Homo sapiens: one gene and its partner. The protein of the gene in region 1 purifies or fractionates together with the protein of each later gene. This does not show direct contact. Each region holds a gene or a part of one and is shown in the gene's direction. Other genes may lie near its edges. The genes, in order: GALNTL5 and SCAP.

What was found.
Region 2: the proteins of GALNTL5 (region 1) and SCAP purify together in Homo sapiens (affinity purification with mass spectrometry; one large-scale study listed by BioGRID and IntAct). This does not show direct contact.

Annotation. Positions count from the first base shown.
Region 1 is NC_000007.14:151,969,842-151,973,657, forward strand, and holds part of GALNTL5 (inactive polypeptide N-acetylgalactosaminyltransferase-like protein 5), read left to right. Parts: intron 1-657; exon of another isoform or gene 658-832; coding exon of another isoform or gene 833-860; intron 861-1,103; coding exon 1,104-1,224; intron 1,225-3,816.
Region 2 is NC_000003.12:47,427,238-47,431,053, reverse strand, and holds part of SCAP (sterol regulatory element-binding protein cleavage-activating protein), read left to right. Parts: intron 1-2,383; coding exon 2,384-2,541; intron 2,542-3,386; coding exon 3,387-3,607; intron 3,608-3,791; coding exon 3,792-3,816. UniProt on the Homo sapiens protein: Escort protein required for cholesterol as well as lipid homeostasis.

The DNA of each region.
Region 1 (3,816 bases):
TGTCGCCCAGGCTGGAGTGCAGTGGCACGATCTCGGCTCACTGCAAGCTCCGCCTCCGGGGTTCACGCCATTCTCCTGCCTCAGCCTCCCGAGTAGCTGGGACTACAGGCACCAGCCGCCACGCCTGGCTATTTTTTTTTTTGTATTTTTAGGAGAGACGGGGTTTCACCGTGTTAGCCAGGATGGTGTTGATCTCCTGACCTCGTGATCCACCCACCTCAGCCTCCCAAAGTGCTGGGACTACAGGCGTGAGCCACCGCACCCGGCCCCAAAACTGAATTCTTTGGTGGGTGGGGAGGGGGTAGTTGGGGGGGCCCCCACCAATAGACGCCTGGCCGCTGGGTGAAAGGGAAAGCAGGAAGGGGCGGGGGGTGGGGGTGGGCTCAGTACATTCTGCTTCTTTATCTCCCTATTTCCATGTAGCCTGCTTAAACCTATACTAAGCCACTTAGAATTGAAAATGGACCATCACATATAGGTTATTTTCTACAGATAATCCAGATGATCCAACACCATTTGTTGATAAACTTCCCTTTCCCCACTGATACAATCAGAATATTTATCCCTCCATGTCTCATGTTGAAATTTGTCCCACAATGTTGAAGGTGGAGCCTGGCAGGATGTGTTTGGGTTACGTGGCCAGATCCCTCATGAATGGCTTGGTGCCTGCCTACAGTAATGAGCTCTCCTTCTATTAGCTCATGGGAAAGCTGGTTGTTTCAAGAGCCTGGCATCCCCCGCTCCTTGCTCCCTCTCTCACCACGTGACCTGCCTGTTTCCCTTTTACCTCCTGCCAAGATTGGAAGCTTCCTGAGGCCCCCACCAGGAGCAGATGCTGGCTCAATGCTTCCTGCAGAACTGTGAGCCAAATAAATCTCTTTTCTTTATAAATTACCCAGCCTCAGGTATTCCTTTATAGCAATGCAAAATGTACTAAAACACCCACCTTTGCCAAGAATTATTTGACCATTTTTGCACAGATCGATTTCCGAATTCTATTCTGGTTCTTTTAAAAAATTGTTTTGGTTATTCTAGATCTTTCCTTTCCTGCATCACTGCTAGTAAGCCTTTACTTATATGATTCTAATTACATTTTCTTGCAGGTACAGATTTTAACCATACAAACCCAGAACTTCATAAAGAACTTTTAAAATATGGATTTAATGTGATTATCAGTAGAAGCTTGGGCATCGAAAGAGAAGTGCCAGATACCAGGAGTAAAATGTATGTTGTCTCTCTCTTTCTCTCATTCTCTAGATAGATAGATAGATAGATAGATAGATAGATAGATAGATAGAAAGAAAACAGTTACTAACCAGATTTTAATTTGATCATACTAGAAATGTTATAGATTCCTATTTTTAGGACTTGAAGTCAGATAATGTCAAGATTCTATTTCAAGATTCTAATGCTTATAGTGTAGAGAATGTCTTCTTCGTGGGCACAAAATGTGTTCTAGAGGCTTCCAAGAATTGAGTTACCCACAGATCTTTTTATTAAATCACCAATAAGGGCTTCTGGCCAAAGGGGCATTCATTCCTGATAGAAAATGCTCTGGACAGCTACTTTTTATTCCCCAAAATTTACTTTTTTCAAAAAAATTGTTCTTTCAATTGTTGCATTAATAATTATTATGTTAATGATTAACATAATCATTGTTATGTGATAAAATACACATAACATAAAATTTGCCATTTTAATCCTCTTTAAATGTACAATACAGACATTCACATTGTGCAGCCATCGATACCATCCATCTCCAGAACTCTCTCACCATCCCAAACTGAAATTCTGTACCTGATATGGTTTGGCTCTATGTCCCCACCCAAATCTTGTCTTGAGTTGTAATCCCAGGTGTCAAGGGAGGGACCTGGTGGAAGGTGATTGGATCATGGGGGTGGTTTCCCTCATGCTGTTCTCATGATAGTGAGGGAGTTCTCATGAGACCTGATGATTTTAAAAGTAGCAGTTTCCCCTGCATTCTCTCTCTCTCTCTCTTCTGCCACCATGTAAGACATGCCTTGCTTTCCCTTCACCTTCTACCATGATTGTCAGTTTCCTGAGGCTTCCCAGCCATGTGGAACTGAGTCAATTACACCTCTTTTGTTTAGCAATTACCCAGTCTCAGGTAGAATCTTTATAGCAGTGTGAAAATGGATTAATACAGAAAATAGGTACCAGGAGTGGGGCACTGCTATAAAGATACCTAAAAATGTAGAAGCAACTTGGGAACTGGGTAACAGGCAGAGGTTGGAATAGTTTGGAGGTCTCAGAAGAAAAGAGGAAGATGTGGGAAAGTTTGGAATTTCCTAGAGACTTGTTGAATGGCTTTGGTAAAAATGCTGATAGTGATAAGGACAATGAAGTCCAGGCTGAGGTGGTCTCAGATGGAGATGAGGAACTTGTTGAGAAATGGAGTAAAGGTGACTCTTGTTATGCTTTAGCAAAGAGACTGGTGGCATTTTGCCCCTACCCTAGAGATCTATGGAACTTTGAACTTGAGGTTTGGAAAATTTGCAGGTGACTATGTGGTAGAAAAGAAAAACCCATTTTCTGGGGAGAAATTCAAGCCCAATCCAGCTGCAGAAATTTGCATAAGTAATGAGGAGCTGAATGTTAATAGCCAAGACAATGGGGAAAATGTCTCCAGGGCATTTCAGAGACCATGGCAACTCCTCCCATCACAGGCCCAGAGGCCTAGAAGGAAAAATGATTTTGTTGGCCAGGCCCAGGGCCCTGCTGTTCTGTGCAGCGTTGGGACAAGGTGCCCTGTGTCCCAGCCACTCCAGCTCCAGCCATGGCCAAAAGGGACCAAAGTACAACTAAGGCTGTGGTTTCAGAGGTTGCAAGCTCCAAGCCTTGGTGGCTTCCATGTGGTATTGGGCCTGTGGTGCACAGAAGACAAGAGTTGAGCTTTGGGAGCCTCCACCTAGAATTCAGAGGATATATGGAAACACCTGGATGTCCAGGCAGAAGCCTGCTGCGGGGGCAGAGCCCTCGTGGAGAACCTCTACTAGGGTAATGCAGAGGTGAAATGTGGGGATAGAGACACCAAACCTAGTCCCCACTGGGGCAATACCTAGTGGAGCTGTGAGAAGAGGACCACCTTCCTTCAGACCCCAGAATGGTAGATCCACCAACAGCTTGCACCATGCACTTGGAAAAGACACAGGCACTCAACACCAGCCCTTGAAAGCAGCTGCGGGGGATGTACCCTGCAGAGCCACAGAAGCAGAACTGCCCAAGGCCTTGGGAGCCCACCCCTTGCATCACTGTGACCTGGATGTGAGACTTGGAGTCAAAGGAGATCATTTCAGAACTTTAAGATTTAGGGGCCAGGCACTGTGGCTCAAGCCTATAATCCCAGCACTTTGGGAGGCTAAGGCAGGTGGATCACGAGGTCAGGAGTTCAAGACCAGCCTGGCCAGGATGGTGAAACCCCATCTCTACTAAAAATACAAAAAAAAAAAAAAATTAGCCAGGCATGGTGATGCGTGCCTATAGACCCAGCTACTTGGGAGGCTGAGGCAGGAGAATTGTTTCAACCCAGCCAGCAGAGGTTGCAGTAAGCCAAGTTCACACCACTGCACTCCAGCCTGGGTGACAGAGCAAGCTCCGTCTTACAAAAAAAAAAAAAGAAGATTTAATGTCTGCCCCGCTGGGTTTCAGACTTGCATGGGGCCTGTGGCCCCTTTGTTTTGGCCAATTGGCCAATTTCTCCCATTTGGAATGGGAATATTTACCCAATGCCTGTACCGCTATTGTATCTTGAAAATAACTAACTTGTTTTTTATTTTATAGGTTCATAGGAGGAAG
Region 2 (3,816 bases), on another chromosome or scaffold:
CAGAGCCCTCACTAAGGCACAGCCACATAAAGTTCACAAAGGCTCAGACGGTTGCCTCTGGTTGTTCCTTTGTGCCCAGGGTCCCAGGAGGCATTAACTTGCTGTGCTTGGTCAGCATCTTGGCCCTTGCCTATGCTGTAACCTGGAGTACTGCATTGGTGAGTGGCTCCATGGCCTCCCTTTCATCCACACGCATGCCCCTTGGAGTTCCCGACTGCAGCCCAGGCGTGGAGACAGCCCCTCATCCCTCAGCTGGGCTGGGCCCTGCCCCCTTCAGTCCACACCTCGCAGTACACCGCTGTCTAGGGCCATGTTTCCTTGTCTCCAGTTGTCACCAACTCCCGGGGAGTCTTTACAGAGCACTGCTTTCATCAGGTTGCCCCTTCACCTCAGAGACACTGGGCTTTGCTTTGTCAACTGATTAAAATCCTGACAGCTCAGTCAGGCTTCAGTCTAAGCCTGCTTGTCATCTTCCTCGTAATTTCTGTTATCCCCTGACAGGTTTCCTTGGTGCAGATGTCCAGGCCTTCTGTGCTCTCAGCATCCCTTGCAACTCACATTCCCTCCTGCTCCTCTCCTACCTGTTCTTTTCTAACCTTATGGCTCTACTCAGCTTCTCCTGGGCCATAACTCTGCTGTGGCTGACCCAGCATGTTTTGGGGTGCTCCGCGACATGCCTGTTACTGAGGGTTGCATATGTGAACACTCTTGTCATTTACATCCCTGTTAAGCTCTTGAAAGGTAGATGGCAGATTCTAGTGAGAAAAGTATGTGATATTTAGTGAGGAGACCTTGGTTTGAGTCCTTACACCACCCTGCCTGGAGTGTGAAGCTCTAGGCAGGCACAATGCCTGAGCCTCTCCTTGCTTCTCATCAGGCTGTTGTGAGGGTCAGATGAAGTGAAATGCCTGATTGTTCATTGTTAATATTTCTGCTAATCTTTCAGACACTGTTTGTATGCGTGTGTGGTGTGTGCATACATCTTGATGCTGCAGGGTGAATGTCGTTATTCCTGTTTCACAATGAGGAAATTGAAATCCAGAGATGTCAAAAGTGTTTTCAAGGCCATATGTTTGGAAAGCTGTGATTTAAAATTGGGTCCTTTGATCTTCAAAACCCGCTACTCTGCTGCAAGTGACAAAACCTGAATCAGTAAGACAGGTTACATGCTTTGGGGAGTGTAGAGTCTATAGTGCGGTCAGCAGACATGTTCCATAAAGGGCTAGATAGTAAACATTTAGGCTTTGCGGGCCAGACGGCCTCTGTTGCAGCCATTTGACCCTGCTGTTGTAGAGTGAAAGCAGCCATAGACAATAGTAATGGTAGGGGTGTGGCTGTGCTTCAGTAAAAATTGGAAGTGGAAAAACAGGCACTAACCAGCCTGGGCAACATAGTGAGACCCCATCTCTACAGAAAATAAAGAAGTTAGCCAGGTGTGGCACTTCGGGAGGCCAAAATGGGAGGATCACTTGAGCCCAGGAGTTCGAGACCAGCCTGGCAACATAGTGATACCCTGTCCCTACAAAACATTTTTGAAAATTAGGCGTGGTGGTGGTGCACACACCTCTAGTCTCAGCTACTTGGTGGGTGGGGGTGCTGAGGTGGGAGGATCTCTTGAGCCTGGGAGATTGAGGTTTCAGTGAGCCATGATTGGGCAATAGAGCAAGACCCTGTCTCAAAAAGAAAAACAGGCATGGGCCCTGATTTGGCCTACAGGCCATCGTTTGCCTACACCTGGTCCCACAGTGCTTTGCCCATAGTAGATGTGTTATTGAGCAAAAGAGGCTCGCTGCCCAATGTGCTAGAAGCCAATACTGTGACACCAGGATTTGGGGAAAAGAAAAGCTTTATATTGAAGGTTGACTCCCTAGGAGACCGGAGTCCAGCTCAAATCTGTCTCCCTGTGCTGGCTTTAAGGCAGTAATTTTATTAGGAAAGGTTTAGAGGGTGGATACTAGGATTAGCAGATGATTGATGGAAGGAAGGGTGATTTCTGGGAAGTCTTTGAGCATGCCCAGTTATCTCTTGATGCCACCTCACAGGTCCCATGTGCAAATTCCGGGGGGAGTTAGTATGAAACATGGCAGTGGAAATTCAGGCTGTGACATCGGCAAGCTCATTCTGCACAACTCCAGTCGGCCATCTTGGTTCCAGCTTATTTCAGCCAGTTCTTTTATCTCATAAGCGGAGGGAGTTTCTGGGTTTCAGCAAATTGTTTCTTTTCTTATCTGCCATCCTGCAAACTCAAGAACTTGTATTAGTCATTGGTTTCTTTAACTCTGTGGGGCACGGTTTCCAATGCCCATTAAATCCCTTGAATTGGACCGTCTTTCTTCTTCCTGTGCTCAGCTGCCCTTTCTGCCCTCCCTCATTTCTTCTGCAGTATGTGGGTGCCCCGGTGGCTTATGTCCAGCAGATATTTGTGAAGTCCTCAGTGTTTCCCTGGCACAAGAACCTCCTGGCAGTAGATGTATTTCGTTCACCTTTGTCCCGGGCATTCCAACTGGTGGAGGAGATCCGGAACCACGTGCTGAGAGACAGGTACCCCTCTCAGGGACCCTGGCCTCCCTGAATCCCATTCTGTACTGAAGGGAGAGTTACAGTCCTCAGTGTAACTGCAGTGAGCCAGTCAGCTCTGCAGAGATAGAACAAGCAAGAAGGATGGAGGGTGAGCTAGCCTTGAATTTCTCAGCATCCTTGTGGGTCTACGGTGGCTGCATTCCGCTTGGACCTATGCAGATGGCACACACATAGCCTTGAGTCTCATCCTTACATCTCAGATGGAGTCAGTGTCCACTGTGCTAACTCATGACCCACATGGCTTCCTGCCTGTGGGTTATGGTGTGAATGTAATGGTGGTGTCTCTGCCGACGAGAAGCAAGCTCTACCTGGGGGTACCTTCTGAAGCCCCAGCCCAAGTCGTGCTCCCCTGCCTATCAGTGGGTCCCTGGGTTATGCTGGCTTGGCATACAATGTGTGTAATTGGCAAGCTGCATCACTGCCAGGTTTTAGTTAGCTAGTGGCGTTGACAGATATTTTGGTGAACTAAATGAAGCCCCTAATTTACCCCGGTCCCTGCTCATCCACTGAACTGGCCAGGGTGTTTTAGTGGGTGGGGTTGTGCATGCTCTTATAGTACACTTGCCCGTCCTCAGAGCTGATGGGCTTTTGGGCTTCAGATGCACTTTGAAAGTCAGACAGCCACATGTTTAGGTTATTGGCCACCTGGAAGTACTTCCCCCTGCTGCCCTAGTGGTCAGGCTCTTTGGCGATACCAGAGAGCAAATATGGGGCATTGAAGAACAGACAGAGGATGTCCCCTAAGTACAGCAGGTCTGCCCTGTGGTGGCAGACACAGCAGGTGCCTTGTCCTGTCTCCTGTGCAGCTCTGGGATCAGGAGCTTGGAGGAGTTGTGTCTGCAAGTGACCGACCTGCTGCCAGGCCTTAGGAAGCTCAGGAACCTACTCCCTGAGCATGGATGCCTGCTGCTGTCCCCTGGGAACTTCTGGCAGAATGACTGGGAACGCTTCCATGCTGATCCTGACATCATTGGGACCATCCACCAGCACGAGCCTAAAACCCTGCAGACTTCAGCCACACTCAAAGGTAGCCCCAGTACAAGTTCCCTTCAGACCTGTAAAGGTGCCCATTGGTCACCGTCTTTTTGATGTGTGCTTAGGCAGATCAGGGTTTACCCTTTGTTTCCCAGGGTGGGGGTGAGAAAGGGGTCCTTGGTGGCTCTGCAGTAGCTGTCATTTCTGTGTCAGTACCTGCTGGTTTCTGCTTGCAGACTTGTTATTTGGTGTTCCTGGGAA